Regions from separate parts of the Homo sapiens genome. Here all the other regions are linked to region 3. Evidence: fine-mapped expression QTL. A gene starts in region 3. Each other region holds a variant in brackets. All regions are shown on one strand. Distances are from middle to middle. Region 1 overlaps LOC124902109 (a long non-coding RNA gene). Region 2 holds the start of LOC107987042 (phosphatidylinositol 4,5-bisphosphate 5-phosphatase A-like). Region 3 holds the start of KANK1 (KN motif and ankyrin repeat domains 1). Region 4 overlaps KANK1 (KN motif and ankyrin repeat domains 1). Region 5 overlaps KANK1 (KN motif and ankyrin repeat domains 1). Region 6 overlaps KANK1 (KN motif and ankyrin repeat domains 1). Region 7 overlaps DOCK8 (dedicator of cytokinesis 8).

Region 1 (4,223 bases), 250 kb before region 3:
CATCAAATGAACAGGAGGGGGAAGCAAAGGGAAGAGTGACTGCCTACGTTTCTGTAGACTCTGGCTGACAGCCTGTCTACCCGGATGGGTGGATTGCTAATAGCAGTTAATGTTCATCATGTTGGCACCTGGGTGAAACTCCTTTCCATGCAGAGGTAAATGTAGGTACCGATCATTGAAAGGTAATCTTTAATTAATTGATTGTTTTTGAGACAGAGTCTCACTCTTATCGCCCAGCCTGGAAGTGCAGTGGTGTGATCTCAGCTCACCGCAACCTCTGCCTCCTGGGTTCAAGGGATTCTTCTGCCTCAGCCTCCCAAGTAGCTGAGTAGCTGGGATTACAGGTGCAAGCCACCACGACCGCCTAATTTTTGTATTTTTGGTAGAGACAGGGTTTCACCACGCTGGCCAGGCTGGTCTCCAACTCCTGACCTCAGGTGATCCACCCGCCTCGGCCTCCCAAAGTGCTGGGGTTATAGGTGTGAGCCACCGTACCCGGCCGAGAGGTAATCTTCAGAAGACTTACTGGTGGGTGATGACAGTGTTTGGGCCCCCAATTTTAAAAAGGATTAGAAGCAGTGACAAGAATTTGGCAAAACAAATTTCTGAACCCAAGACTGTTGTGCACTGGCAAGTGTAGGATGTTTGTCCTCAGCTGGAGTCCCTAAACTCCGACACACACAGGTAAGTAAAATGACTGTGCTCTACTTTTTTAAATATGTGCCAGGCACAGTGACTCATGCCTGTAATCTTAGCACTTTGGGACGCTCAGGTGGGCAGATCACCTGACATCAGGAGTTTGAGACCAGCCTGGCCAACATAATGAAACCCCGGCTCTCCTAAAAATATAAAAATTAGCCAGGCGTGGTGGTGTGTGCCTGTAATCCGAGCTGCTTGGGAGGCTGAGGCACGAGAATCGCTTGAACCCAGGAGGTGGAGGTTGCAGTGAGCCAAGATCTCATCACTGCACTCCAGCTTGGGCAACAGAGTGAGACTCCGCCTCAAAAAAAAAAAAATGTTCTACAGACCAATATCTATAGCAAGGTTTATAAGACAGACACCAAGCTTCTGGCTCTTTGGTTATGTAGTGGTCATATATCTCTGATGATGACTGAATGAAGCATATGGGGAACTTCATTAACGTTCCTTTGGTCATTCAAGGCCTTCCATTAATCAATCTCAGCAAGTGTACTTTCTGAGTGTCTTGTCTCTTGGAGGTGAATTTACAGATGAGAGAAGATATAAACAAGTTGCCTCCTTTCCCAGTGAAACACTGATGTCTTCTCCCTCTTCTAACTCATCTCAACTTGGTCTCTGAACTTAGCGCTGTGGACATACCATATGTGTCCTTAGGCAAGAGGATCTTCAATTGGTTCCTGGGTTCATTGGACCCCTGTGGCTTTCCAACACAGATGACTCAGTCTCTTGCATCTCAGTGTGAACACCTAGGATGACCGTTTTTCTGCTCTGGAAAGGAAAAACACTGTGCACTTCTGCCTGATGGCAGAATCAGAACCCAGGATGGAATGCAGAGGCAGCAGCTGAGAGGGCAGCAGTGCAGCACACTCTCCTCCATGCCACCTGGGTTTCCAGAGGAGACCATGATTTTTTTTATTATTTTTTGAGACAAAGTTTTGCTCTTGTTGTCCAGGCTGGAGTGCAACGGCACTATCTCGGCTCATTGTAACCTCCGCCTCCCGGGTTCAAGCGATTCTCCTGCCTCAGCCTCCTGAGTAGCTGGGATTACAGGTGCCCACCACCATGCCCAGCTAATTTTTGTATTTTTATTAGAGACAGGATTTCACTATGTCGGCCAGGCTAGTCTCGAACTCCTGACCTCAGGCGATCCACCCACCTCAGCCTCCCAAAGTACTGGGATTACAGGCATGAGCCACCGCACCCGGCCAACCATGATTTTTTAAAATGTGCATTCATAAGGGAGTGAGCTGACACAGAAACTCATGGGATTAGCATAAAGAAACATTACTTTCTAAGGGAAATGTATGAGTCATTTTTTTTTTTTAAGACTGCTGTGAGTCAAGTTCTATGGCCAAATTCTGGATGAATACAGGATTTATAAACACTTGATATATTGTACAAGCTGTAGAAAGACTTCCT[A/G]TTGGGCAATGGTATCTTTGCAGAATTTGTTTTTTATACTGGGAAGCAAAAGTTCCACAGGGAACAAGTTAACTCATAAGGTTTAGTCACTGGAAACTGCAAAAGACGAAAGCCTACAAAGATGAAAGAACAGACACTTTAGAGCTCCCTGATGGACAGGAATCCTCCTTATCAGAGCCCTTCCTCTAGAGCAGCATTTCTCAAAGTGGGGTTTCTGGACCAGAAGCATCAGCACCACCTGGGAACTTGTTAGAAATGCCAATTCTTGAGCCTCTTTCCAGACCTACCGAATTGGAAAGTCGAGGTTGAGGCCCAGCAGTGTGTTTTCACAAACCCTCCTGGGGATTCCGATGCACACCAAAGTTTGAGAGCTACACGTTTCTAAGAGACAATCTAGGCAGACTGTACACAGGAAATGGCTTTCCTTTCACAAAAATATGTAGTCCCTAGTGCCCTAAGGCATCCACTGTAGATAATAGGTTACATTCTCTCTCTGCAACTAGGATGGTACTGGTATGTACCATCCCTGGGGATTATTAAGAAAATAGTCATCCAAATAGTTGTCATTGTTCTATGATTAAGTCCCCAGTGACAGTTTTGTTGCTGTCCGCCAATCAACTAAGCCATTTGGTTACACAGCAGCACTTCACTTCGAGGAACCAGTTTTTGTATGGATAAAGAAAATCTAAGTTACGCTGTGACAGCAAGTCACTCCCTAGCTTCTCTGGCTTAGCATAATAAAGGACTATTTCTTGTTCCTAATACACCTGCAACACAGCTTGGCAAGGAAACTCTATTCCACGTAGTCACTCAGGGTCGACACTAATGGGATGTCTGTGTCAACACTTGCTTCCGTGATCATCACTGTGACAAGGGGAGTACAAGATACGGTAAACTGCACTGGCTTTTGAGGCTTCCATCTGGAACTGACACATAACCTTTTCTGTTTCATTGGAGAAGTCACATGGCCAAGTGTAACTTCAAAAGTGTGTGGGTAGTACATCCGATCCTGTTGTGCCCAGAAAAAGAACTGGAGTATCTGAGAACAGCCCTCGTGACTGCTATTCAAGGTTACGAGTGGGCCACAATGGCCATCATGCAAAACTATGTGGTCACATTCAAGAAATAGCAGGGCTAAGAGTTTCCAGTTTTTACCTTCTTTCACTATCTCTTTGATTATATTGACTCTCAAATCTGCACCTTCCTTCCCAAGGTTTTTTTTGATCAAACTTTTTCATTTTCTTAAACTTTAAAAAAAATTGAAGTTAATATACATACAGGAAAGCACACACGTGTGTCTACAGCCTGATGAATGGTCACAAAGTGAGCATAACAGTGCAACTACCCCCCAGGCAAGAAATTGACCATTACCAGGAGCCCACCAGCCCCATTTGGGCTCCTTCCAGCTCCCTCATGGCAACACTCCTGACTTCTAACACCATCAGTTATTTTTTTACACTCATTCATTCAACTAGTATTTCTCAGCTAGGCACCGGAACTTCTCAGTCCTGGCAGATGGTGTTACAAACCGAAGCATGAGATTTCATCCTAATAAGCTTCCTGTTGGAAGACTGGATTTTTCTGGGGGTGGGGGTGACATATTTTAGGCAGGATTGGGGGTGGGTGAGCTCTCTGAACTCTCAGGGATTTTACCTAATAAATATTTTCCTTATTACCTGTTTAAGCACATCCAGTACTTCCTAAAAGAGCAGATGGGACCATAGCAAGAATCTCTTTGCTGCCCGACACATGAGAAGCGGCCTGCCCAGCTGGCACTTGCTCTCCTACAACCAGCCTCAACAAGGCATCGAGCTGCCTGCACCAGTGACAGCAAAGCAGCACCTGCCTGTCTGCAGCTCAGGGATTTTCTCTCGCCCTCAGTCGTACAGCCTTAGCCTTCCAGGTGGTTTCTAGGGCTGGGTAACTAGTTCCTTCTGGGTTGGGGAATGGGGAACAAGTGTAAAAGTTATTTTGGCTCAAATACAAGATTGACATTTGGTTTTAGAAATAGGAATATTTGTTATGCAGCTTCCATTTTATGAAAATGAGGGATATGTTTTCCATCCTCTTACCTATTTAATCAACAAAGGTCTTAATGGAGATGC
Region 2 (4,519 bases), 210 kb before region 3:
TTGGTAAGGCTCACAGGGAATTACTGTAAGCCATAAAATCATCCAGGGTGGCTTTCTGATTATTAGCTTCAATTTCAAGAAGGAAGAGTGAGCAGGAATCCCAATGAATACGAGAAAGAATAAGACAGACAAAAATGTAAGCGCCTATCGGGCCAGGTGTGGTGGCTCATGTCTGTAATCCCAGCACTTTGGGAGGCCGAGGTGGGTAGATCACCTGAGGTCAGGAGTTCAAGATCAGCCTGACCAATGTGGTGAAACCCTATCTCTACTAAAATACAAAAGTGGCTGGGCATAGTGGTGGGCACCTGTAGTCCCAGCTACTCAGGAGGTTGAGACACAAGAATCGCTTGTACCTGAGAGGCAGAGGTTGCAGTGAGCCGAGATGGCACCACCACCCTCCAGCCTGGGTGACAGAGCGACTCTGTCTCAAAAAAAAAAAAAAAAAATGAGTGGGAAAAGACTCCCTTCTCTCCAAGTTTGACCACCTCATCTCAAACAGCCCTCACCCTGACCACTACCACTCGCTGTTCCCATAACCGGAGTTAATTTCTTCACAGTATTTATCGCCTCCTGACATGTTATAGGTCTACTGTCTATATCCTGCACCCCACCTAGAATGTAAGCACCGCAGGGACAGGGGCTCTGTTCTGTTTTGTTCACACTATCTTCACAGCCTATAGCTTGAGACAGAGTAGGAATCCAAGTAATAATGATTTTTACTTCATATTTTTTTAGAAATGGAGGTCTTACTATGTTGCCCAGGCTGGTCTCAAATTTCTGGGCTCTAGCAATCCTCCCGCCTCAGCCTCTAGAGTAGCTGGGACTACGGATGTGTACCATTGCACCTGGCTCAAATTCAATAATTATTTGCTGAATTAAAGAATGAATTAATGGAGTCTCTCCTCTCATAAACGTTTTAACTGAAAACATTTTATGCCAGTATTTCAATTGCTAATATACTGGTAATAGTGGGTACAAACAGGGTAGGATTTTTTAAAGGCAGTTCTATAAATAATGAGCAAGTAAATAACTGAAAGACAAAGAATAAAGCATCTTACCAAACTAGCAGCCCCAGAAGACAACCTCTAGGCCAGCCAACACCAGTTTACTTTTCTTCCAGCGTTAGTCCTCAGCCAGAGGCCAGTGAGGCTACCAGATAATAAGCATCAGCAGAGGTGCTTATGGATTTTGATTCTTAGTTTTCATTCTACAGATTACCACTCTAAAACTTTCTCCATTTCTCCTCCAAAAATGGTTCCAGCAGTTAAAAAATAATCCTTAGCTTCTGGAAAGACATTTTCCCCCATCCTTCCTCATTCCCAGGTCCTCAGGGTACCACCTACCTGTGATTTTACCCAGACTGGTTTTCTGGAAGTCAGGGTTCCTCAGCTCTTCAGTGCTTGCAGATTTCATGACAGAGTTGATAGACGACAGGGTGCTGATGAGCTGAGAGTTGAGGGAGCCCATCTGTGAGTGAGGTTCCCCGAAAGCTTCTGCCAGTTCACTGTAGTTCTCAGCCAGCAGTGTCTGCTGTTCTGCCAGCAGCTTCTGGATACGCTCAATGTAGTGATCCAGGCCAGTCATCATTCCAAGTGGAGCTTGAGGCTGGGGGTTCTCCAGAGATTCCCCTACAGGGTCATCCCCAACCCCCACGCTCCTTCTGCTGGCTGTCAGCCCCACAGTCAACTGTGGTGGCCCACAAGCTATAGTCCTCATTTTGAGACCAACCAGATAGTTGTCGTTAATATTTATCTGCCCCACACCTGACTCTTTGGTCTTCACAGCTGATGGCCTGTCAAACCCAGAATGGCCAGAAAGCAACGTTCCAACACCAATGGACCGCGTCTTGGTGGAGGAGTTGATGTCCTTGACACGGCCTTCTCCTACAGCTACTGTCCGCGTCTCCACAGTCTGGGTGCTGGTCTGCTTGTCCAAAGTGCTTAGACAAGTGTTGGTGCAGGACTCTATGAGGGTGGCCGTCTCGGTGTTGGTGAACTGGTGCACCTGTTCCAAATCTGTGCTAGTGTCCTGGTCTGCAGTACGAGGCACTGCCATGACGGCAGCTTCCACCTGGCTAACAGCCTCAGTGTTCACGCCCCGGGAGGCGCACTCCTTTGGAGAGCAGACGGTCACGTCAACAGAACAATCTCCACAACCGATAGACCGCACTTCTTTGAGATTCAAGTTTGTCTTGAGGAGTGTGAGGTC[G/A]TTCACAGACTCCTCTGTGTTGCTGCCTGTTTCGCAGACGCTGACTTCCACACTCACACTCTTGTCACACATTTCCACAGACCTCCCAGCACATCGGTCATGCATTTCCACCCTCTCCTTAACAATCCACCAATTCATAGGCAGCTCAGGCCCTACGACTTTATTCTTACATTCAGGCTGGCAGGAGATGCCTACACTGTTTGTTTCCACGGAGGTCCCAACACACGTGTCCACCAGGTCCATGTGACTGCCGACCATTTGGTCTCTGGTCTGCACCACTGCCTCCACCACCTTACTGAAAACAAGCGGCTGGGCCATCGTGGCTTTGTCAACCTTTTTCCTCGATCCAGCAGCCTGCAGCTCTTGTTTCAGTTTAGTCATCTCCCGGTCATGGGTGGTTTCTCTAAGCTGTACTTCTAGGCGATAGATCTTTTCCTTCAAGGATTCTATGGTCTGCTGTTGCAGCTCAATTTCTTTGTCAGCTTCAGTCATCACTCCAAGCATGGCCTCTGTCACGCTGACCCCACAATTTCTCATCTCAACAAGTGTCCCTACAGCTGCATCCTTACAGGACCTGGAGCCTCTGTGGTACACGACGATGTCGTTCATGTTCTCCTCGGCACCCACAGCCACAGACCGGCACTCTCCATTCTCCCTGAGCTCTGAGGAGGCCTCACAGCTGCTGTCCTGGATCTTCTGCTCCAGGGCTTGCATGTCTGCTGTAAGTTGCCGGAACTCCTTTATCCTCTGCGTGCTCTGTTCTACGGTCTCCATTTCTTCCTCCTCATAGTCAATGTATAATTCCCCGCCACTTCTTCGGGCCCGGGAGAGCTGTTCCAGCTGGGAGGCGTTCCCCGCACTATAGGACCGCTTCCTCACACCACAGACATTGATCTGGGATGCAGCCCTTTGGTTTTTCAGCTGTGAGACCAACTGCCTTTTCTCTTCTTGCAAGACAGAGATCTTTACCTGGAGCACAGGGATGGTTCGCACCTGCTCCTCCAGCTCCTTCAGGCGTTTCAGAGCAATGGCCATCTGCTCGCGGATGTGCTGCAGGTGCATGGGGCTCACGTTGGTCACTGGGGTGGAGATCCCTGAGCTCAGGGGGCTGTGGCGGATGGAGCTCCCCATGGAGGAAGTGGTGGGAGCAGCTGGGGCATAGCTACCATAATCCCCATTACCTTGGTATCCATTCTGAAGCTGGTGCTTGGCAGGATTGTGGTTTCCAGAACCCACAAAAGAAGGGAGGGAGCTTGTGGTGCCCATGCCTCCAAAACTGGCCAGCCTGGGCCTTCTGAACTCACCCGGTGTCATCTGCATGGTGGCTCTCTCCTGTTCCAGTCTTCTCCGGGTCTCCATCAGTGTCTTGGTGACATGAAGGTTATGCTTTGGGAGTTGTGGTGAGGGAGGTGGCAGCTGTCGATTTTCTGGGATGGTAAGAAAAGGGAGTGAGGTCTCCAGAGGGGGAGGTGGCTTTGAGATTGGAGTTGATGTAACTTGACTTCTGGCTATGAGGAAGTTGGGGCACTGCTTGTTGTCATCACTGTTGGAGGATGAGAGGGATTCAGTGGAAGTCCATATACCTTGCTGACCAGATGTGGTCCTGGGTTCTGGGCATGGCACGGACGGCTTCCGCCTCTTCTGGATGTTCAGTCTTTTGATGGTATTTCCCTTCTGTATGTCATCCACATATTTGAGGAAATCTAAGTCTAGTTGATAACCATAGGGGGTCTCCACAAAGTAAGGGTCTTTCTGTTCCTTGTCCTGGTCTCCACTGAGAATATCACCTGCTTTTCCTAGAAGAGGGAGAAAAGAATATTATAATGACATGCAATACACCTAATGGTAAAAACTAATATTTGTGTTTGTTGCAGTACAGCAAGCTGGTATGATTTTAAGAGTTGACACACCTATGTTTTGAACCTGGATCTACAACAGCTGGGTAAGCAAGTTTTTTTTGTTTTTTTTTGTTTTTTTTTTTTTTGAGACAGGTCATTCTGTCACCCAGGCTGGAGCTGCAATGGCATGATCTCGGTTCACTGCAGCCTCCGTCTCCTGGGATCAAGCAATTCTCCTACCTCAGCCTCCTGAGTTGCTGGGATTACAGGGGTGCACCACCACGCCTGGCTAATTTTTACACTTTTAGTAGAGACAGGGTTTCACCATGTTGGCCAGGCTGGTCTCGAACTCCTGACCTTAGGTGATCCACCCAACCTGGCCTCCCAAAGTGCTGGGATTACAGGCGTGAGCCACTGCGCCCGGCTTGGGTAAGCAAGTTAATAAACCTCTCTTAACTTCAGTTTCTCCCTGA
Region 3 (4,519 bases):
AGAACCTCGACTAGAGTGATTTATGGACTAGGCAAGTCTAGAGCCCAGAAAGCATCCCTGTGCCCTAAGGGGATAAAATGTATTCCCAACTTGTGGGTCTCTACAGGAGGCAATTATTCCTCTACTGGCAGCTTCTCTTCCATCCTTATTCATTTTAACCTCCCCATAGGACAGCCAATACTTAATTTTTCTTCCATTGCTTCAGCAGCACCTTTCCCCAAACCTAGTAACAGAAAAAGGATCAAAGTTAATCACCTCTCAGTTTTCTCACTCAGTCTCTATCTTAGAAAAACTTCCTAAGTAGCTGCCTTAAAATGAGGGAGAAGGGCTGGGAGATGGAAGAATGACTGCTAATCGGTATAGGGGTTCTTTTTGGGGGCAACGAAATGGAATCAGATGGTAGTGATGATTTCATAACTTTACGGATATATTAAAAACCACTGAATTTTGACCTTAGAAGAGTAAATTTATATGTTTATTACACTTCAATTTTTTTTAAATAAAACGTGCTCAACATTTTAGTAGAGAAAGTTGGATGAAAGGAGAAACTGGCAGATGAACAGCTACTTAGCTGTTAACGCCACCTAAAAATGAACTTGAATAAACTCAGGAATTCAATATAAGCAAACAGACCCTCATTTCCATTCAGCTCCAGAGGTGGGGGGCAATGACGGTGAGGAAAGGAACTGCACGATTACACATCTGGATGATTAAGCTTCCTTATTAGCCTCGGGTATCAGGGTCTAATAGAATCCACTATTTAATAAGATGGGCTGACCCTCCGCAGAGGCCACGTGCGGAAAGCGAGCGCTGGCGGACGCCATAAATTGTTAACGCCAACTCGCCCAAGGCCTTCACTAGGTCACGCTCGTGCAGCACGGCTCGTGCTGACCCGCAAGAGCCACCAAGAACAGTTGCCTCTGAAAGTTCCACGGGACCCGGGTGAAGGAGATGAACGGTCAAGGAGCCGTGGCTGCCGCGAGCGCCACTGCGTGTTGCCCAAAGCGGCACAGAAAACGCAACATTCGGGGACCAGCCCGCTTCAGGGCCCCTACACCTTCCCTCGACCTGGAACCGCGGGACCTCGGAAACCCACGCTGCCCGCGCCGGGTTGGGCCGCCCCAGAGGCCGCAGCGCCCACGCCCCTCCCCCGCCTCCCCGCCCTCCAGCCCCGGCCGAAGCCACCTCGGAGTTGGCGGAGGGCGACCCGAGGCCACCTGCCCCTCTGGGGCCGAGGATAAAGGGGTCTTGACCGCCACTCCCTCCCGCGAAGGGCAACATCCAACTCCACGGAGAGCCGCTTCAGAGAGGGTCCCCCGTTCCGCCCCGGGCTAGGGAAGGGCCCAGAGGCATCCGAGGGACAGAGCGCCGGGCCGGGGTAGCCAGGCGCCCGCACCCTCCCGCCGGCCGGCCCGGCCCGAACTTTCTCGCTGCTCCGTGCCCGGCGCGCCTCTCCCTCCTCCAGACCGGCCGAGCGCCGCCGCTGCAGAGCGCGCCAAACTCCGACGGCCGCGGGGCCGACGCCACCTCTCGGACCCCCCCCCAGGACCGCCCCGAGGCCGCCGGGTTCACCCGCACGAGCGGGAGCCCGCGGGGGCTGCCCTCCGCCACCGCCACGGCCGCCGCGCAACCCCGGCGCGCGCCAAGTCGGCTCCGCGCGGGGCCAGCCCGAGGCAGGGGTAGGGGCCTCGCGCTCCGGGACAACCTCGCCGCGGCACGGGGCGCGGCACGGCCCCGCCGCGTCACTCACCTTCGGCCGCTCCTCCCAACCTGCCGGCCGCTCGCTCGCTCCGCCGCGGACCCGGAGCTCGGGGAAGGGCGGGGCGCAGGGGGCGGAGTCGGCCCCGGCTGGCAAGCGCCAGAATTAAAGCCCGAACCGCACGGCCGCCGCCGGGGCGGGGAAGCCGGGGCGGACCAGCAAGCCTCTCACCCGCGGTGGGCGACAGCTGTGGCTGCGCCCCGGAGCGGCGCGTGAGAAGAACGGCGCGGGCCGGCGAAGCCCCGGCTGCTCCCTCCGCCCAGAGGACGCCCGGCTCCCCGCGGGGGCGCTCTTTGTACCGCGGAGCCGGCCGCGGGCGGCCCTCAGTGCGCCTGCGCGCCGCTGCAACTCCACCAGGCCCGCGGGGCACCTTCGTGCACCTTCGTCGCCGCGCCTGGCCCGCGGGCCTCGCCGCGGCGAGAACTAAGCAGAAGAACTTCCTCCACCGCGGTTCGCTCCTTCTGCCAACCCGTATTTACCACGTCCATCCTCGCACACACACCCGCAAGGGGAGAAGAAATCCAGCCCCCGTGAGACGGTGCGGTGCTCCCATCTCCGGCTGGGGCGGGGGTTCTGGCAACGAGGCTGGCCTGCTCGACGTCCTCCCCCAGCGCCTCTGTACCTCCTCTCCCTCCCCGGGTGAGGGGGACCGGAGCGTGCAGAGCTCTGTTTCCTGCAGGTGCCTCGTCAGCACGGTCGCCCCGGCGGCCAGAAACCTCCCGCCTCCAAGGGCACCTCCCTTGTGACCTCCGTGCATTCGCCCTGGCTCGGCTGCAGGACAGAGTCCTCGGCGGAAAGGGGAGGATGCGTGTTCAGAAGGTTGCAGGTCTCTGGGGACTCCACAGAAGACCCAACGCCTGCCTCGGGGGCTCAGGATTGAACTGGCTTCCTAGTTCAGTCCCAAATACTCGATTTGGAGCAATCCAGTAGGTCCATGAGAAATTAGTAGGGATTGAGAAGCTGTGACTTCAGTCTTTTTCAAATTGAAGGTGGCTTGAACAAACAGAAGAGGAGCTTGGGAACTGAAGGGACGACTTTATAAAAACCAGGTATTACTCAAAAAACAATGTTAGCTCTGCAGTCAACTGATTTTCTTAAGGGAGAGAGTCCTCCCCTCACCCCCAAGCTCTCTAGCACCGCACACATCCAGCAGGGCGTTACACACGCTCAGTCTTTTTTGTGAGTGTGCAAGTGAAGAGCCATCAAACTTCACAAGGCGACATGCTTGCCTCTGGGGAGAAGACGCTGCTTTTCCACAGTTCACAGCGAAGCACACCTGCAAATTCCTGAACTTGATGGCTCCTGACTGTTTAGGGAATAGGCAAAGGGCAGCCGGAAGATATGTGAAGGCAGGAAAGCTCATTTTGAATCTCAGCGCCTTTGCCAGCTCACTGGGTGGCAGTAAGCAAACTCTTTCCTCCTCCTGGGCCTTGCTTTTTCGTCTGTAGAGTAGGGCATTTGGATGCAGTAGATATTTTCTAAAATCCCCCACCACCACCACCCCGCCCCAAATGTCTACTCTTCTATGAAAAGGAGAATTGTTTGCATGGTGATAAGGGATGAGATATCAGAGGCAGGAAGACTCCTGCATTTTAAAAGTGCTCGTCGGCCAGGCGCAGTGGCTCAGGCCTATAATCCTCACACTTTGGGAGGCCGAGACAGGTAGATCAGTTGACCCCAGGAGTTCTGGGCAATACAGTGAAATTCTGTTTTCACCAAAAAAAAAAAAAAAAAAAAAAAAAAATCAGCTGGGCGCGATGGCGCGCGCCTGTAGTCCCAGCTACTCTGGAGGCTAAGGTAGGAGGATCGCCTGAGCCCTGGAGGTCGAGGCGGCAGTGAGCAGAGATTGAGCCACTGCATTCTAGTCCAGGCTACAGAGTGTGACCCTGTCTCAAAAATAAATAAATAAATAGTGCCCTCGACCGGGTGCACTGGCTCACACCTATAATCCCAGCACTTTGTGAGGCCGAGATGGGTGGATCACTTGAGGCCAGGAGTTCAACACCGGCCTGGCCAACATGGTGAAACCCCATGTCTACTAAAAAATACAAAAAAATTCGCTGGGCGTGGTGACGTGCACCTGTAATCCCAGCTACTCGGGAGGCTGAGGCAGGAGAATCCTTGAACCCGGGAAGCTGAGGTTGCAGTGAGCCGAGATCATGCCACTGCACTTTGGCCTGGGCGACAGAGCACGACTCTAAGAAAAAAAAAAAAAAAGTGCTCTCCATCCCCAGAATTCCCAGCCTTCACCTCTCCTTTATTTCTCCCTCTTTGCATTTAGTCAGTAAACATTGATAGGCCCTCAAGAGTAAGCAAAACGAATCAATCAAAAGTATGGCAGATTCTGAATTTTTAGTGGATTTATACTTGAAATTTCATTTTTAATTTAGTTATTTTATTGACATACAATTCACATGCCATACAATTTACTCCCAAAATGTATAATTCAGTGGTTTTGAATATATTCCCAAAGTCACACAACCATCACCACTAATTCCAGACATTGACATCCCAGTAAGAAACCCCATACCCATTAGTCACTCCCCATTCCTCCCTACTCCCAGCCGCTGGCTACCACTAATTTACTTTCTGTCTCTATGGATTTGCTGATTCTGGACGTTGCATATAACTAGGAACATAACAACATGCTACTAGCTTCTTTCACTTAACATAATAGTTGCAAGGCTCATCCATGCTGTAGTATGTTTCAGTACTTTCTTCCTCCCCCTACCCATTATACCATTTACTGATGATAGAATT
Region 4 (4,519 bases), 63 kb before region 3:
CTGAGAAGTCCAAAGTCTAGGGCTGCATCTGGTGAGGGCCTTCTTGCTGGTGGGGACTTGACAGAGTCTGGAGGCAGCACAGGGAATCACATGGTGAGGCGGCCGAGTGTGCTAGCTCAGGTCCCTTCCTCTTCTTAAAAGCCACCAGCCCTACTCCCCTGATAACCCATTAATCCATTAATCCATGAATGGATTAATCCATTCATGAGGGCAGAGCCACCTCTTAAAGGCCCCACCTCTCAATATTGCCACATTGGGGGTTAAGTTTCAACATGAGATTCACATGGGACATTCAAACCTTAGCAAGCACTATAACATACTGAGGGACCATAAATAGGAGACGAACATATAGAGATAGGAAGCTATGTTTTTTGAGACAAAGTTGATAAAACAGAGGGGAGGCAGGAAGAAAGGAAGGCAGGTGGGCAGGACTGGGTCAGGCAGCTGGATACAGTAGTGTGTCAGGCAGATACTGAGAAGATACCTCTGCACTAACAGCCTCCCAATGCCCCACAGTGGAGCTGGTCCCCAGCTGAACCTCTACAGGTGGGTAGAAGAGCACCAGAGCCATTCCTCCCTCCCCAGGAGCTCTGTCTACAGTGAGCTACATACTCAAATATACCCCGATGAGTGTGGAAATCGATCCCATTTTTAAAAGATATAAATTTGGCAAAACATATTAAGGGTTTTTTAAGTGGTCATGATCTTTTAAAATGTGACTTCTGACCTGTAATTTTGCTTCTAATCATACACATACTAAGGAAATAATGTTTTTAAAAAATCAACCTTGGCCAGGCATGGTGGCTCACACCTGTAATCCCAGTGCTTTGGGAGGTTAAGGTGGGAGGCCAGGAGTTCGAGATCAGCCTGGGCAACATATTGAGATTTTGTCTCTACAAAAAAATTTTAGAAAATTAGGCAGGCATGGTGATGCACACCTGTAGTCCTAGCTATTCAGCAGGCTGAGGCGGGATGATAGCTTGAGCCCAGGAGTTTGAGGTTAAAGCATGCCATGACTGCACCACTGCACTCCAACCTGGGCAACAGAGTGACGATCATGCCACTGCACTCCAGCCTGGGTCACAGAGCAAGTCTCTGCCTCTATGGGAGAGACAGGAAAAAAACCCCACAGACTTACACATAAATACATCCACTGCCTCACTACTGTAAAAATTTCAGAAACTTAATAATTTGTTAAATTATGATACATATCTTAAACATGTTTATGAAGATTAAGGAAATGCTTACTTTATAAAGTTAGGTTGAAAACTGGGTATGATGTTGAAGATTTTAAACAAAAATATAAAAATGAATGGAAGGGACTATATCAACATTTGAATATTTTTGCCTTTGGTGTAAAAAATCTTGAGAAGTTGATTTTTAACATGCATTATAGATAAGGTAGTGGTTATAACCACATCAAGATAAATGTAAACTATTCTCACACAGGATCACTCTCTACCTCATACTTCACTCATCTGTGAATTTAGTCAAATTAACTCTTGAGCTTTGTTTTCTTCTCTGTAAAATGAAGATAATCATAGCTACCTGATATGGGCACAAAGAAAAAAAAAAACCAACAATGCCAAGCGTTGAACTTTGGCACTCTCTCTTTGGAAGACTGTAAGTTTTGTCCATGCTGGTGACTTTGGAGCCAGTTTTAAAAATTAACTCTAAATTCAATACCACTGGGCCTCTTAAAGTTATAAAACATCTGCAAACTTCTATACTGCAAGAACGTACTCAAATGAGAGACTCTAATTCTGATAAGCTCGGGCATCTCCCTGGGTAACCAATAAATTTTAAAATGGGCCAACACTGCACCAAAGTTCCATGAGGAAGGGACTTATCAAGAAGTGCTGCCTTTCAGAGGAAAACATTCTCATGGATGACTTGGTTTCACATTTCCAAACATGTTTCATTTATATGGCACATTCAAACTAAGAAATGCTGCAAAAGTTCTCTTTGCTGGCTCCAATCAATGCAGAAGGTACTTAGAAGAGGGAAGTGAAACTGCTTTTGCAAAACTGTGACAGTAAGAGATATCTGACCCTTGCTTCTAACCTCCAAGTTGTCCTTCGTCATTCCTGGGCATGGGCAAAGCTAACTTCGGGGAAAATTTAGTTTATAGTTTAACTTTAAAGCAAGAATGAGAATAGCACTTTCCAAAACTAAATCAACTTTGT[A/G]AAGCTAATGAAACACCACAAGGTTAGGGTTATGAGAAGGGCCTGAATTCTGCTAAGATGTAGGCATAGAAGGCAATCCTAAGCAAAAAGAACAAAGCTGGAGGCATTACACTACCCAACTTCAAACTACACTACTGGGCTACAATAACCAAAACAGCATGGCACTGGTACAAAACCAGACACACAGACCAAGGGAACAGACGAGAGAACCCAGAAATAAGGCCGCATACCTACAACTATCTGATCTTTGACAAACCTGACAAAAACAAGCAATGGGGAAAGGACTCCCTGTTGAATAAATGGTGCTGTGATAACTGGCTAGCCATGTGCAGAAAATTGAAACTGGACCCCTTCCTTACATCATATACAAAAATCAACTCAAGAAGGATTAAAAACTTAAATGTAATACTCAAAAACCTGGATGATAACCTAAGCAATACCATTCCGGACATAGGAATGGGCAAAGATTTCGTGACGAGAATGTCAAAAGGAATTCCAACAAAAGCAAAAATTGACAAATGGGATCTAATTAAACTAAAAGGCTTCTGCACAGCAAAAGAAACTATCAACAAAGTAAACAGACAACCTACAGAATGGGAGAAAATTTTGGCAAACTATCCATCTGACAAAAGTCTAATATCCAGCACCTACACGGAACTTAAATTTATAAGAAAAAAACAACTCCATTAAAAAGTAGGCAAAGGCATGAACAGACACCTTTCAAAAGAAGACACACATGCGGCCAACAAGTATGTGGAAAAAAAGCTCAACATTACCGATCATTAGAGAAACGCAAATAACAACCACAAGGAGATACCATCTCGCACCTGTCAGAATGGCTATTATCAAGAAATCAAAACATAACAGGTGCTGGCGAGGTTGCAGAGAAAAAGGAACATTTACACAGTATTGGTGGAAGTATAAATTAGTTCAACCACTGTGGAAGACAATGTGATGAGTCTTCAAAGTTCTAAAAATATAACTCCCATTCCACCCAGAAATCCCATTACTGGGTGTACACCAAAAGAAATATAAATCATTCTATCATAAAGATGCATGCACACATATGCTCACTGCAGCACTATTCACAATAGCAAAGACATGGAATCAACCTAAACGCCCATCAGTGGTACAGTGGATAAAGAAAATGTGGAACATATACACCATGAAATACTATGCAGCCATAAAAAAGAATAAGATCATGTCCTTTGCATGGATAGCTGGAAGCCATCACCCACAGCAAACTAACGCAGGAACAGAAAACCAAATACTACACGTTGTCACTTATAAATGGGAGCTAAATGATGAGAACACATGGGCACATAGAGGACAACAACAGACACTGCAGCCTAATGGAGGGTGGAGGTTGGGGAGGAAGCAGAGGGTGAAGAAAAATAACTATGTATTATTAACTTAACACCTGGGTGATGAAACAATCTGTACAACAAACCCCCATGACACGAGTTTACCCATATTAACAAACCTGCACATGCACCCCTGAACCTAAAATAAAAGTTTTGTTAAAAGCGTAGGTATAAATGATAACCAGCCATTGTTCTGGAAGTCACAAGATTTGTAACTTCCCCAATTACTGTGGTAAATAGCATCACTCTTGCGGAACCTAAGATTGGCCTTTTGAGATGTCTTTTCAGACTGCTGCATTTTTGACGACTGGCTGACTCCACCTGGACCTGCGACTCATGACTCAACTGGTCCTATGGCCCCTAACCCAGAGGCAGACTCAGCAAATGAGGGCTGTTTTCCACACTCCTATGATGGCATCCCCAGCCAATCAGCAACATCCATTCTATAGTCCCCTGTCCACCGAACTATCCTTGAAAAACCTCAACCCCCAAAACTTCAGGGAGATTAATTTGAGTGATAACTCCATCTCCCATGCGGCTAGCCACCTCTTCGTCAATTAAACTCTTTCTTTACTGCAATACCATGGTCTCAGTGAACTGGAAGACCCTTTTGGGTGACTACACAAGTTATGCTCTGCAGAAGACATCCTTAAACTACTGTCTGCACAAGGTAGAATGGGAGCAAACATGAAACCATTCTTTAGGGTTGACTTTCCCATTGCAAGAACTATGGCTTAAGTCTTAAAGATGAAGCTGCTACCATTTTTCTCTTTAGCAGTAACTAGTCAGGGAGTTGAATGGGTGGGAAAGATCTTAACAGGAATAGATGTTCTCCAGCTCTCTGATTAATTTAAATTGCTGAAAGTTTACCTGACATGCCTAGTGGTCTTCAAAATATATAGGTATGGATTTGCAAAGGAAGAAAAGGGGATTTTTCTGTTTCTAAAGTCACACTTTGGTCTCTCTTCT
Region 5 (4,519 bases), 190 kb before region 3:
TTCTCCTCAGCATTCTCCATTAGGGTTTCCATGGATTATTCAAGTCCCCATGAATTTTTGTCTAGGTATAACAAACTCCTTTGCACCATATGAATTTTACCTACCCAATTAGATGGTAAGTGGTAATAGTAAGATAAGTTCTGGTGGTATTCCACAATGAGAACTTTGACACTGTCTGCATCTGGGCTAGCCAGCCTGTAGCCTTGACTCTGTCTGCCCCTAATACTTCGGAGGAAACTGAGAAGGTCTGACAAATTCCAGCTACTCTGGGCTGAGCTGGAGACCAGGATCCGGTCTCTGGGCTTGTCTTCTAGGGCTCTGTTACCTCATTCTGCTATTAAAAAAGAAAATTTTTTCTTTAAACCAATGGATGACTCACCGCAGAGAAAAGTGATGGGATTCCTTTTCTGAAGGTCACTGAAGTATGAGAAATCTAACCTGGGAAGGACGGATATGGCATGAGTGAGGGCAGGAAGAAACAGGAGACAACATTTTAGGGAATCCAGGTTCTGATTTAGCATGTTGAGATGCAGAACACAGACTCGCTCTGTGTTTGAAACTCTAGGATGGGAAGAGCAAGGACTGAAAATGCCTGTGAGGCTAAGACAACACCGACCCTGACAGCCAACAAGTGTCTCTGGAGGCAGGAGAGAAAGGCGGGCAGCACGCTGTTTCCAGCTTTGTGTACCTATCCACCCGCATCTGACCAGGGCCTGAATTGGCCAACAGGGAAAGCTAAAGGTAGACGATAGGCCTGGGGAACTTAAACAATATACTCTGAAAACGCAAAACTTCCACCCACCAGATGGTCTCTGACAAGCTGAATTTCAGGTTGGCTTGCCTCTAGGGTCCCGAGTGTTACTGTTGGCCTGCCTACCACAGATCTTGTTGCAGGTAACCCATACTGTCTGAGATAAATACATATCTAGAACTCAGATAACACCCTCCGCCTACCAGTTATTAGTCTCAATCGTCAGCACACATCAGATTGGCTATTTAATGCCAGTGTCAAGGGTATATTTGATTCAAACTCTTTTGAACCCCCACTAGCCAAATCTAGGATAATTTGAGCATGAAAATAATATGATTAATGATAGTAACAAGTTACAATCCAGAGAATAGGTATCTACTTGTGAGTCCATCATGCTATAATAAATATGTAGGAATACCAACTAATATATACAAGGAATTATGTCAACAGAAAATCACCATGGACCAATTATTAGAACAGTGGCGGATTCAGGTAGGAATCACTAGCTAAGGCTAGTGGGTAGAGATTTCCTACTAAAGACTAAGATACTGATGTCGTCTCAGAATATCTCACCAGAAAATATTCCTGGAAACGTCTACAACTTCTCAATTACTATCCTTGCAAAGTCATGTGCCAGGAGCTCCATTTTAAAGAATAAAGCCTAAAAGCTCTTTTCTGTGGCATGAAATGTCAATCATAAAAAAAAATGGTGACTCTATGATGAGAAAGCTGACAAATAACCACCTCGACCAGGTGATCAAAGTTGACATCATGTATCTGCATGGGGAAGAGCAGAGCATCACTTTTGCACTGTCCTGCCAAGAAGGCATGGCCTGGACCCTGCCTGAAACACATTCTACAGAATGTCAGGCCTCTCTTTTTAAAACCATCATGGCCATGAAAAAAAGGTAAAAACGAGAACTTTTCAGATGGAAGGAGGCCAAAAAGACATGACAACTGCATTTCTACACACAGACACACACACACACACACACACACACACAGATGGAACAAATACGGTAAAATGTTAACCACTGGGAAATCTGAGTCTGGGTGAGGAAGACATGAGAGCTCTTTTTATGTACGATTAAAATTATTTAAAAATAAATTTTATTTCTGTCTTTCCTTTCTTCATCTGTGCATCAATGTCCTTAGGGTGCACGAGTGCAGTCAGCCTGCCACTAGGGAGCACAGCCCAGACTCTGCTGTTACTCATACTGCAAATATGCAGCCTGTTTTCAGGGGCAGATGGCTTTGCTTTCCTGTATTACATATTATTTGAGAAATTTTACATTTGTTTCAGGTATTCCTGGAAACGTCTACAACTTCTCAATCACTATCCTTGCAAAGTGATGTGCCAGGAGCTCCACTTTAAAGAAGAAAGCCTAAAAGCTCTTTTCTGTGGCACGAAATGTCAACAATTTAGCCCCAATCCAGCACCTCCCAGGTTCCTCCCCACCCCAAACCTCAACGTACTGAGAAATTTTCAAGCTTATCTATCTTTGCTCATTCTATCCCCTCTACCCAGCACACCCTTCCCCACACTCTCCCATCTGTCAAAATCAGCTGCATTGTCCTAAAGGGCCCAACCCAGATACCTCATTTTTGTAAAGCCCTACTTACCCTCAACTGCTCTGTCCTGGGAATAACTGGTCCCCTTCTTCCCTCTTGTTTCCTAAGTCACTTTGCCTATATACGCGGAACTGTGTTACAGTTAGCAAGCACATGCCTGTGTTTCTCTACCAGACTCTAAGTGTCTAGGGGAGGCAGAAGTCAAGCAGTTTTTTTTTTTTTTTTGAGACGGAGTCTCGCTCTGTCACCCAGGCTGGAGTGCAGTGGCGTGATCTCGGCTCCCTGCAAACTCCGCCTCCCGGGTTCACGCCATTCTCCTGCCTCAGCCTCCCGAGTAGCTGGGACTACAGGCGCC[C/T]GCCACCACGCCCGGCTAATTTTTTGTATTTTTAGTAGAGACGGCGTTTCACCATGTTAGCCAGGATGGTCTCGATCTCCTGGCCTCGTGAGCCGGGCTTCCCAAAGTGCTGGGATTACAGGCATGAGCCACCGCGCCTGGCCCTCAAGCAGTATTTATGTTTGTATTCCTCAGTACTTGGCGCTTGGTACATGGCCCTCTTAGTATCTGCTGAAGTGTAAAGCCCCACATCTAGGCATCTACTGATGAATAAGTATAACAGAGGAAGAGATGTAGTGATTTGAAGCAGGCACTCTGGGGCCAGACTGCCTGGGTTTGAATCCTGGCTCTGCTGCTTTGCAGCTGTCGGCAAATTAGACTATATTCCAATTGTTTGAGAAAATAATAGTACCTGCATCAGTGTGTTGTCACTTAGAACAATGGGTGGGTTCTATTGTCACTACTAGTGGTACTGGATCACCCTCTGTTGTCTGGAGAAGAACACAACCCTGGCCCCCCAGAGAGGATCCAGAACCCTTCCTCCTCTATACCTTGCCCCCCCCCCCACGAAGTCAGGGTTTAAGGTATTTGTGATACTTGTTCAAGACCAAGTAAGTCTGCTAAAATCTTGAGTTCTACATTGGTTTCTTCTTCTTAAGAGTGTATGAAGGAGATGCCAGCAGGGAGCTGTAGGGGATGTGTGTGTGCACACGCACTGCTTGGGCAGAGTGGTATGTACCAGTTAGATAAGGGGGAGTCCCAGTCCAGCACAGGAAGGAAATAAAAGCAAAAGCAGACAAACACCCCCCAACTTTTAAAGCATATTATGGCCAGGTTAAAATATCTCCATCTCACAACATGAGGGCAAAGGTGAGTGCCGATTATTCTGAACACTCATTCTGCAGCTCTCCCGAAGTCCTCAGGGCACAGTGCTCTCTAACACACTGTGCAAAGACGGTGCTTTAAGCCACCCAGAGCACCTCCAGGGTAGTCGTCCTGAATGGCCTGCCTAGGTTGGGGGAAGGTATACTATTGTTTTCATAAAACAAGAACAGGAACTATGATCACTTCCTAGTTCATGCACGAGCCATGGGCAAGAGAGCCCTGGAATCATACAATGCAGTGATGTGATTCATACCCTTAAAATGAGGGGGGTCAGTGGAACTCTGATTTCCAAAGTTGCTTCCAGGCTATGAGTAACTGTCGACTAGACTTGATACAAAATTTCTTAACATGGCATGAAGAAAAATGAATCACGGCAGGTGTCAGACCAGATGAGCTCAGGCAGACAGAGCCTGCAGTCTTCCCCTCTGCACGTCCCACTCAGCAGCACCTTTCCAGCTGCATCCTAACTGGCATGACCTAACAATCCCCAGTGCAGTGTCCCTCCTGGGTATTGCCAATTCTACTCTGGGCATGGGTTAAGAGGCCAGAAGCCAGGCTGCACGTAAGAGTGAGGGGAAGACAGCGGAAAGGGTTACTATTCTCAGTAGTGGAACGGCCTGTCTTAATAAAGGGCACATTGTGCTAGGGAGGCATGTGATGGTAACAGGGGCCTTGCGGTTTATACAGTGGCCCTCTTCTCCAGTGTTCAGTGCCAACTACAAGATGCAGCAACTCTTTACCCCAAATCTGTCTCAAAACAGCCAAAATGCCATGGGCTCCTAAGTGCAACCCCAACTATGCTGCTCTCTAATGTCCACTGTCTCATTTTAAAAGTTGTTGCTGAAATACAGCCCAAATCAATCATGCATGCACAGAAGAGAATGAGCTTGGACTGTTATTTTCCAAACTTTCTTCAAAAGTAACATGCTGTTCTAAGCGTAAAAAAGAAATGTGCCAGTTCAGAGAGTAATTCTGTG
Region 6 (4,519 bases), 150 kb before region 3:
AAAAAAAAGGAAAAAAGTAGAAGTAGCATTTACGGTGCTCCAGTCACACTAAAGGTCAAGCTGCCTTATGTTGCTATCCTTTAGTGGAAATAAACCTCACTTAAGCTTTTCCCTTTTTAATACAGGAGACTCAGAACATTCTCTGCTTTTTTATTGTCACAGGCTCTCCTGCTAGGACAAGCACATCCCTTTAGTGATTCTTCAAGAGTTCTGCTGACGTTCACCTACCCACGCTAGACAGGCAAATATTCAGGCACCGGGAGGGAGTAGGGGCATCTGCCATGGAGATGTCCTTTAAAAATGGGAAATGACTGAAAAAGCCTGATCCCATTCTGTTGAGGAATGCCTTGGAGAATAGCAGTATGGTCACAGACTGACCAATGACAGGCCACACCCAGGAGACAGAGCCTTGTCCCCTGGTCAGCATGAGGTAGAGGCAAAAGGGAAGACCACTGGCTCAGCCCCACCCATTTCCCAAGGACACTTTCATAGCCTCTAATTCAAATATCAACCACTTCTGCCATGTTCAGCTGAGAAAATTCAACAAGCCAGGGGAAACAGATTCCACAGACGGGACTTAAACTCTTTCCTCCTCACGCGAAGGTCTTGTCTCTCCCTCTCTCCTTCTGAACAGGCTCTGACAGCAAGGTCTCAACTCCACCACGCTGGGAAAGGCGCCAGACTGTGGGACCTGCCAGATAAAAGGCTTCACCCCTAACCCAGGCCTGAAAGGTTGGGCTCAAGCCAGAGACACAGGATGAAGCCATGTCCCAAGAAGACTGGCTCCCAGAGCCTGCGGTCTGACAGCAAGAAAGTGCCAAAAGTGACTAGCTCCTGCAACGAGGCTCTGGGGCATTACTAAACTTTCAGCCTCTTAGGGCAGTAACCCCTAAAGGGCAGGGTCTGAGGCAAGGAGGAAGCCAGAAGGCAAGATCCTCAAACTCCGTGAATCCTGGGACTCAGTTACAAAGGGGAAAGGCCTGTTACTACATGTGTCATACTAAAGCAAAATTAATTTACAAACATTTGATTGAAACTCTGAGTAAGCAGGTAGGGAGAAGCAAAAACAAAACGTTTTAGCCATCAAGGGAAGGGAAATAGTCATTAATGGCAAAATATTTATTGTTTCTAAGGTATCTGAAATCTCAATGACATTGCTTTTATTTGTTCTATACTACGTAAAAATATATAAAAACTGTGTGTTGATAAGCACTTACATAGGTCAACACTTTCTAACCACCTCACTACTCAAAGTGTAGACCCCTGGGCAATCTTAGCAGCATCTGCCTGACTTGATTTAAAAAAGCAGCATTTTGGGCCCTACCCTAGACCTACAGAATCAATCTGCATTCCAGCAAGACCCCCAGGTGATTTGTATGCACACTGAAGTGGAAGGAGCACTGGTTTAACCTTTATTTTTCCTCATCAAGTCTTAAGCTTCCTAACCCATTACCTTTTATCTGGAGCAACCTACAGTAATGGTTCACAATCTTGGATTTTTTTTTTTTTTTTTTTTTAGACAGAATTTTGCTCTTGTTTCCCAGGCTGGAGTGCAATGGAGTGATCTCCACTCACCGCAACCTCTGCCTCCCGGGTTCAAGCGATTCTCCTGCCTCAGCCTCCCGAGTAGCTGGGATTACAAGCGTGTGCCATCATGCCCGACTAATTTCTTGTATTTTTAGTAGAGACGAGGTTTCACCACGTTAGCCAGGCTGGTCCCGAGCTCCTGACCGCAGGTGATCCACTCGCCTTGGCCTCCTAGAGTGCTGGGGTTACAGGCGTGAGCTACCACGCCCGGCTGGATGATTATTAGAATTACTGTCTAGGTCTCATCAAAGACCAATTGAACTAATCTCTGGGGGTGAGACCTGAGCAGAAGTATATTTCAAAGCTCCTCCAGGAGATTCCAACTGCTACATTTGAGAGTTATTGGTCTATTCCAGTGGTTCTCAAAACGTGTTCCGAGATCAGCAGCATCACCATCACTAGGGAACTTGAACTTGGCAGAAAACCACATTTCTTTTTCCTTCCTCCCTTTATCTCTCTCTCTCTCTCTCTCTCTCTCTCTCTCTCACACACACACACACAAATGCATATTGTGACTATGCTTATTAAAAAGGAACTCAGTAAAACTTGAGGAAATTCTCAGAAAGCAGGTATTCTGGTATCTCTTTCAAACAATATATTGGTACCTGAAACAAAAATA[T/C]TTATGTCTTAGAAGGGTGACTTAAAATTCATTTAAAAATGTGGATGCTGCTAGGTGCTCATGGGCTCATAGGGTCAAAGCAGACAATGGATGAGAAACGATTGAGTGGTAAATATATTACATTGTCCCTTCTGGTTGAGTTAGTGTTTGAAAAAAAAAATTCTATTGTCCTGTGAGTGGTTTGCAAACAAGTGACACTCTATGGGGCTTACCTGATAGCAAGAGAATAGTAGTTCCTCCAGATCTGGTAATATACTATTCCAAGATTCTCCCAGAGATTTTGATTCAGTGAGTCTGACATGGTGTTAAAATTTACATTTCTAACAAACATTCTCAACTGATTCTTGTCTTCAGCAAAATTTGGAAAACACCCTGCCTTCTAAGACTGTTATTCTCTGGGCCACTGTTTCTCAAAGTCTGGCCGTGGACCAGTGATGTCAGCATCACCTGAGGACTTATTAGAAATGCTTGGGCCCCACAACGGGCTACTGAATCAGAGACTCTTCAGGTAAGTCCAGTCATCAGTGTGTTAACTGCTGCATGTGGTCATTTTCAAAACTTACATCTTTTAAGTAAAAACGATCTGCTCTTATTCAAATACCTAATTTCTGGTAAGAAGCCACTCAATTTCAGCCTCAGTTTGTGTCTTTCATGTGGAAGCATGAAAGGGCATAATGAACAGTCTTTGGCTGTAACCAGGAAGTATCCATGTGGAAAGGAACAGGGTGGCACACTCTGCAAAAAATGAAAGCAGTTGTGCTAGTGTGATGGGAGCTTTAAAAAGTATTACATAATTTTACTTTTATTGGAATGACAATCTAACAGCAACTGTAAACACAAAGACAACACTAAGTATCCAATGTGATGAGGCTTGTTCATCTTCCTAGTTGCTATCCTCTCCTTCTTTTTTATTTGAAGAAAACATATCTGCAACAAAGGTATGAAAACCAAACCAGATCACAGTTCTGTTACCTCCAAATGCAAAAGAACTGCTTGAAAACAGGGGAGCACAAGACAAAGGACATTCAGAACCCAGGGACAGGCTTTACAGGGCTCTTGAAACCTCCGAAATCAAATGCAAAGTTTTGTGGTTTTCAGCAAACTTGCATCGTTCAAGGGAAAGGTTTTGCAGCCTTTATTAAATATCCAAAAGAGGCCAGACCCAAGGAAAGTCAATAACCTCTGAATTTCCATGTATCTCACTGAATGCAGATCTGAACAAAAGTCCTATTAATTTAATCTTCTCTTATATGACAAAAAAAATTCTCTTACCTGGAAACCTTTTGCTCTGGCCTTAAAAACTGCTTGTGAGAACTGGAGACTCATCCACCAGAGCAGAGCTTGGAGACAAGCAAAGTAGTAGCACTAGAGAGACCACGAGCCTGGGAACCGCATTTTCATTTCCAGTTGGCCTCGAACTACCTCTGGGACTCTGGGAACGTTACTTAAATGCTCTGGGCCTCAGACTCTTCATGTCCAGACTAGGACAGCCCTAATGACACTTCCAGGCCTGACAGACATTCTATGATTATGCTCTTCTAAATCCTGGGCCCAAAGGGAACACAAGGCTTCCTTGAGCTGACGTTGCTAAATAAAGTTAAGGCCATATGGGATGCTGTGTATGAGTCAGCAGGACACAGGTCTTGCCTCACAGGACCCAGCTGTGCGCAGAAAGCTTCTCTGGCACAGTGAGGACTATTCAGAGAATTCCCACCGCCAACGCCGGAACAGATGCTGAAACACCTGGGCTCTGTGTTCTCCTCTAACTCAGCTCCCAGGGTGGCTACTTTTTCCCCATCCCTTCCAAATTAAGTTTTCTATTCCCTCTCCATGTACTAGTACTAAATATTCAACAATAAAGAAATGCATGACAGAGAAAGTAAAAAATCAGCCGTAATTCTACTACTATCAACGCTTTGGTGTATTGCTTCCCAGTTCTTTCTTGTGGTTTTATAAGCATGTATGTACCTATACATTCTTCCCAAATGTTCCTTTGTAACTTTTAACTTCATATTATAGTCATCTTCCTAAGATAACAACCACATCTCTCTTTTATGGCTGCATAGTATTCCCCTTTCATCTTTGTCTCATTTGACCTTCCTTTATTGTTGAATATTTAGATTGTTTCTTCACACTGCAAACACTTTATTTTACTTTTGAGACACAGTTTCGCTCTTGTCGCCCAGGCTGGAGTGCAATGGCACGATCTCGGCTCACTGCAAACTCTGCCTACCAGATTCAAGTGATTCTCTTGCCTCAGCCTCCTGAGTAGCTGGGATTACAGGTGCAGACCACTATGTCTGGCTAATTTTT
Region 7 (4,000 bases), 51 kb after region 3:
TCACCATTAAAAGGGTAGGAGAACAACTTTAAAATGGTGAATTTGATTTTGAAAATCCAACATTTCTGTAGGCCATCTGGGGAGAATGATAGCCTCATTATTGAAACTCTAATGACTTTGTTAAAGGAGCGACCCCTAGGAAAGTCCATTTCCTCTTGTATCTCTTGCCTGGGACTAGTTTTACTGGGCACTGGTTCTTTTTGGAGTAACTTTTCCTGGGGCTGGGAGCTAATGAGAAACGCATGTTTAGTAGGGATTTTGTAAGTACATTTTACCTAGGTGGTGTCATGGAAAGGATCATACCCGTGAGATACTGGATTGCAAGATTTATAACTAGTAGAAAAAATTGAGGCAAACTGAAGTAAATGAAAATCACTCTCCTGACAAGTTTTCTTAAACATTTAAATTGTATTCAGAGCCTCATTTACTGATATTATCATATTTCCAATCTTTCCTCCTTGTCCTAGCATGCTCATGAGAACACGCTGCTCCAGCTGGACTTAGAGGAACCCGGTGCATCACAGGCATTCCTGACAGAGTCTCGTGGTCCTGCTGGTCCACTCAGTGGTACTCAGTCCTCCTCATTCTCGGGGATAGGTTCCAAGACCCCCAGGGGATGCCTGAAACTGCGGATGGTACCGAACCCTACATATATTATGTTTTTTTCCTATACATACATACCTATGATAAAGCTTAATTTACAAATTAGATAGAGTAAGAGATTAACAACAATTACAGCAATATACTGAAATAAAAGTTATGTGAATGTGGTCTCTCTCTCTCTCTCTGAATATCATATTGTAAGTAATACTTTCAAACCATGGGTAACTAAAGCAGCTGAAAGTGATACCTTGGATCAGGCAGGGCCACTGTCCTGGCTCCCTCTTCCCCACTAGCGCCTTTCTTCCACGTATATAGTCAAGACAAGATTTAAGTGGTGTTTTTCCATAACGCCTCCCACAAATGCTCCAGCCTGAAACTGATTTCTCTTTTCTGATCTTTATAGTCCTGTAGTTAGTCATTCTTAAAGTTCTGTGCATATGCTGCATTCTATTATTCAGCCATGCAGGGCTATGTCCTGTCATTAAGAACAGAGGAACAAGCCAGATCTCTGTAGTCCCATAACTAATATCATGCCTGGAATATAGTGAGTGCTCTTCAAACATTTCATAGGTCCTTTTAGAGGTCCTGGGGCATAGTCAACTTTGGAAGCATTCAACCATAATGAATTTTAAATAAAAATATATGAAAAAAAATTTTTTTAAGCCCCCAATCTCTGAGCCCAGGAATTCAAGACCAGCCTAGACGGCATAGTGAGACCCTGTCTCCACAAAAAATAAAAAATAGGGCCGGGCACGGTGGTATATGCCTGTAATCCCAGCACTTTGGGAGACCAAGGCAGGTGGATCATTTGAGGTCAGGAGTTCAAGATCAGCCTGGCCAACATGGTGAAACCCCATTTCTACCAAAAATACAAAAATTAGCCAGATGTGGTGGCACACGTCTGTAGTCCCAGCTACTTG[G/A]GAGGCTCAGGGAGGAGAATCTCTTGAGCCTGGGAAGTGGAGGTTGCAGTGAGCTGAGATTATGCCACTGTACTCCAGCCTGGGCAACAGAGTGAGACCTTGTCTCAAAATAAAATAAAATAATAAAATAATTCCCCAAATATTTTTCTAGCCTTTTAAAAGATACGTATTATGTACTGAAAAAACAACAACAACAACTAGTTTTTCTGTCAGAATTGTTGTCAAATACAGGAAACAATTCAAATATCAAAACATTAATCAAGATAATCTGTGAGTATGTTCACACACATGCACAAATACAAACACGCAAAGCCACACAAACATCCTATTACCAAGCGGCTGTGATTCACTGCAGGGCACAGTGTGTCTCCTGTATATGCAGCAAAATTGCGGACCTCTCGCAAAAGCCTGTGAAGGAGGAGATATCTCTAACCTCACAAATGCTAGCATTTTGATGAGTTTTCACTGAATTTAGCAAACTTTTAGTCTCCTTTATCCCCATCTGCCAAGTGAAGATATTCTTATACTTAATATTCTTCTCTAAGGTTTTGAATAGAAAGAAATATTGCTACACATTTTTCTGAAGTCCTTTTCTCTTATAGGTGAAATGCCATCACATCCTTCATACTCATATTTTTAGGACCATAGGAGACCCAATATATCTGTCTGTATTGCAATAAATTACAAGGCTTTGACCAAAGACCCAGTTCCTAACTGACTGCTCTTGAAGCCAGCTCCACTGCAGAATTAAGGAACAGAGATGAGACTTGTCTGACATGGGGAACTGTCACAGGATAATACCTTTGAAAAGCCTGGTTTTAGAACTTGCCTCTCTCAATTTGAGGCAGTGTATGTTTTTAAGTTTCTAAAAATAAGATATTATAAGATTTGTAACATTACAATGACTGCCAATGCAAAGAACCTCTGGGACTCTAGTGCATCAGTGGAATATCAGCACATTGATGGACATGTGGACTATTTGGATTCAGAAGACCTGGTTTGAGCTCATCTCTGCTGCCAACTGTCTGTGTGACCTTAAGTAAAATTATCTCCTCTCTCTGAACCTCTGATTCCTCTTTTGTAAAATGAGGAAGATGATGATACTTGTTTTACAACAAGTGATTGTGAGGCACACGGGATGCTAGCCACAAAAGCGTTTCATAGTTGACGTGTTAGTTACTCATTAGTAGTTCAAGTAGTGTTGCTCTGCTGCAGTGGTCCTCAAACTTCAGTGTGCATCAGGATCACCTGGAGGGCGGGTTAAACTGCACATTGCTGAGCCACACCTCCAGAGATTCCAATTCAGCAGGTCTGGAGGGTGCCTGAGACTTTGTCTTTCTAGCAAGTTCTCAGGTGATGCTGAAGCTGCTGGTCTAAGATTGCACTTTGAGAACCACTGCTCTACTGAAATTCCCAGCCATTTTCCTTCTTACCTCATGATGAATTCCTTAAAGCATAACCTCAACTTGTTGTGATGTCGATAGAGTTTTGGATCAGCAGGAATTTCAGCCAAAAACACTTGGGCTACTTCCAGTGGTCCCTGGTGGGAAAAAAAAAAAAAAAAAAAAAAAAATATATATATATATATATATATACACACACACACATATATATATACACATACATATATATGTATATGCATATGTATATGTATATGCATATATATGTATATATATATACACACACATATATATGAATATATTCATACATATATGAAGGAAATTAAATTGCTTGGGAGAAAATATTGGAGTGACTTCTTAGTTTGAACATTTAATTTTGTAGTTGGTTTGAAATAAACAAAAAAAAATAAGGAAGGTCTTGGACATCTCAGGAAATTTTGATTTCTTAGGAGGAATCTGAAGTTTTAGAGGAACACTCAGAAGTATAAATGTATTTTCCCTGTGTGTGTGTGTTTTGTTTTTGTTTTTTAGACAGGGTCTCGCTCTATCACCCAGGCTAGAGAGCAGTGGCATGATCTCTGCTCACTGCAGCCTCCACTTCCCAGGCTCAAGTGATCCTCCCATGTCAGCCTCCCAAGTAGCTGAGACTACAGGTGTGTGCCACTATACCTGGCTATTTTTGTATTTTTTTGTAGTGATGGGATTTTGCCACATTGCCCAGGCTGGTCTTGAACTCCTGGCCTCAAGGGATCCACCCACCTCAGCCTCCCAAATTGCTGGGATTACAGGCGTGCGCACCATACACAGCCCAAATTTATTTTCTTTTTTATTGTTGTTTTTGAGACAGAGTCTTACTCTGTCACTCAGGCTGGAGCGCAGTGGCATAATCTCAGCTCACTACAACCTCCACCTCCCGGGTTCAAGGGATTCTCCTGCCTCAGCCTCCCAAGTACTGGGACTACAAGCGCCTGCCACCACACTGGCTAATTTTTGTATTTTTAGCAGAGATGGGGTTTCACCATGTTGGCCAGGCTGGTCTGAAACTCCTGACCTCAAGTGATTCACCCACCTCGGCCT

What was found.
Region 1: its variant is fine-mapped to the expression of KANK1 in fibroblasts (GTEx, PIP 0.98).
Region 2: its variant is fine-mapped to the expression of KANK1 in whole blood (INTERVAL, PIP 0.99).
Region 4: its variant is fine-mapped to the expression of KANK1 in whole blood (TOPMed, PIP 0.99).
Region 5: its variant is fine-mapped to the expression of KANK1 in whole blood (TOPMed, PIP above 0.99).
Region 6: its variant is fine-mapped to the expression of KANK1 in whole blood (INTERVAL, PIP above 0.99).
Region 7: its variant is fine-mapped to the expression of KANK1 in whole blood (TOPMed, PIP above 0.99).

Annotation. Positions count from the first base shown.
Region 1 is chr9:750,166-754,388 of GRCh38, reverse strand. It overlaps LOC124902109 (a long non-coding RNA gene), which reads left to right. Exons shown (of 4, transcript XR_007061394.1): 2 at 3,804-4,038. Among named protein-coding and RNA genes, the nearest start is that of KANK1-AS1, 67 kb to the right of the region's middle. The variant A/G (reference allele first, on the strand shown) is at 2,119.
Region 2 is chr9:710,289-714,807 of GRCh38, reverse strand. KANK1 (KN motif and ankyrin repeat domains 1) reads right to left here. Exons shown (of 12, transcript NM_015158.5): 3 at 1,344-4,004. LOC107987042 (phosphatidylinositol 4,5-bisphosphate 5-phosphatase A-like) reads left to right here and starts at 4,166. Exons shown (of 1, transcript XM_017015393.3): 1 at 4,166-4,519. The variant G/A (reference allele first, on the strand shown) is at 2,209.
Region 3 is chr9:501,986-506,504 of GRCh38, reverse strand. It overlaps KANK1 (KN motif and ankyrin repeat domains 1), which reads right to left and starts at 1,810. Exons shown (of 12, transcript NM_015158.5): 1 at 1,751-1,810. LOC105375947 (translation initiation factor IF-2-like) reads left to right here and starts at 952. Exons shown (of 4, transcript XM_047424276.1): 1 at 952-1,245; 2 at 1,336-1,566; 3 at 1,684-2,808. The coding sequence starts at 952. The coding sequence ends at 2,505. RefSeq lists a silencer at 1,685-2,174.
Region 4 is chr9:565,052-569,570 of GRCh38, reverse strand. The region is part of intron 1 of KANK1 (KN motif and ankyrin repeat domains 1); the gene reads right to left. Among named protein-coding and RNA genes, the nearest start is that of KANK1, 63 kb to the right of the region's middle. The variant A/G (reference allele first, on the strand shown) is at 2,187.
Region 5 is chr9:694,313-698,831 of GRCh38, reverse strand. All of the region lies in intron 2 of KANK1 (KN motif and ankyrin repeat domains 1), which reads right to left. Among named protein-coding and RNA genes, the nearest start is that of KANK1-AS1, 11 kb to the right of the region's middle. The variant C/T (reference allele first, on the strand shown) is at 2,679.
Region 6 is chr9:652,369-656,887 of GRCh38, reverse strand. The region is part of intron 1 of KANK1 (KN motif and ankyrin repeat domains 1); the gene reads right to left. Among named protein-coding and RNA genes, the nearest start is that of KANK1-AS1, 31 kb to the left of the region's middle. The variant T/C (reference allele first, on the strand shown) is at 2,207.
Region 7 is chr9:451,074-455,073 of GRCh38, reverse strand. DOCK8 (dedicator of cytokinesis 8) reads right to left here. Exons shown (of 48, transcript NM_203447.4): 46 at 2,957-3,063. It overlaps LOC124902108 (a long non-coding RNA gene), which reads left to right. Exons shown (of 3, transcript XR_007061389.1): 3 at 468-770. Among named protein-coding and RNA genes, the nearest start is that of DOCK8-AS2, 17 kb to the left of the region's middle. The variant G/A (reference allele first, on the strand shown) is at 1,524.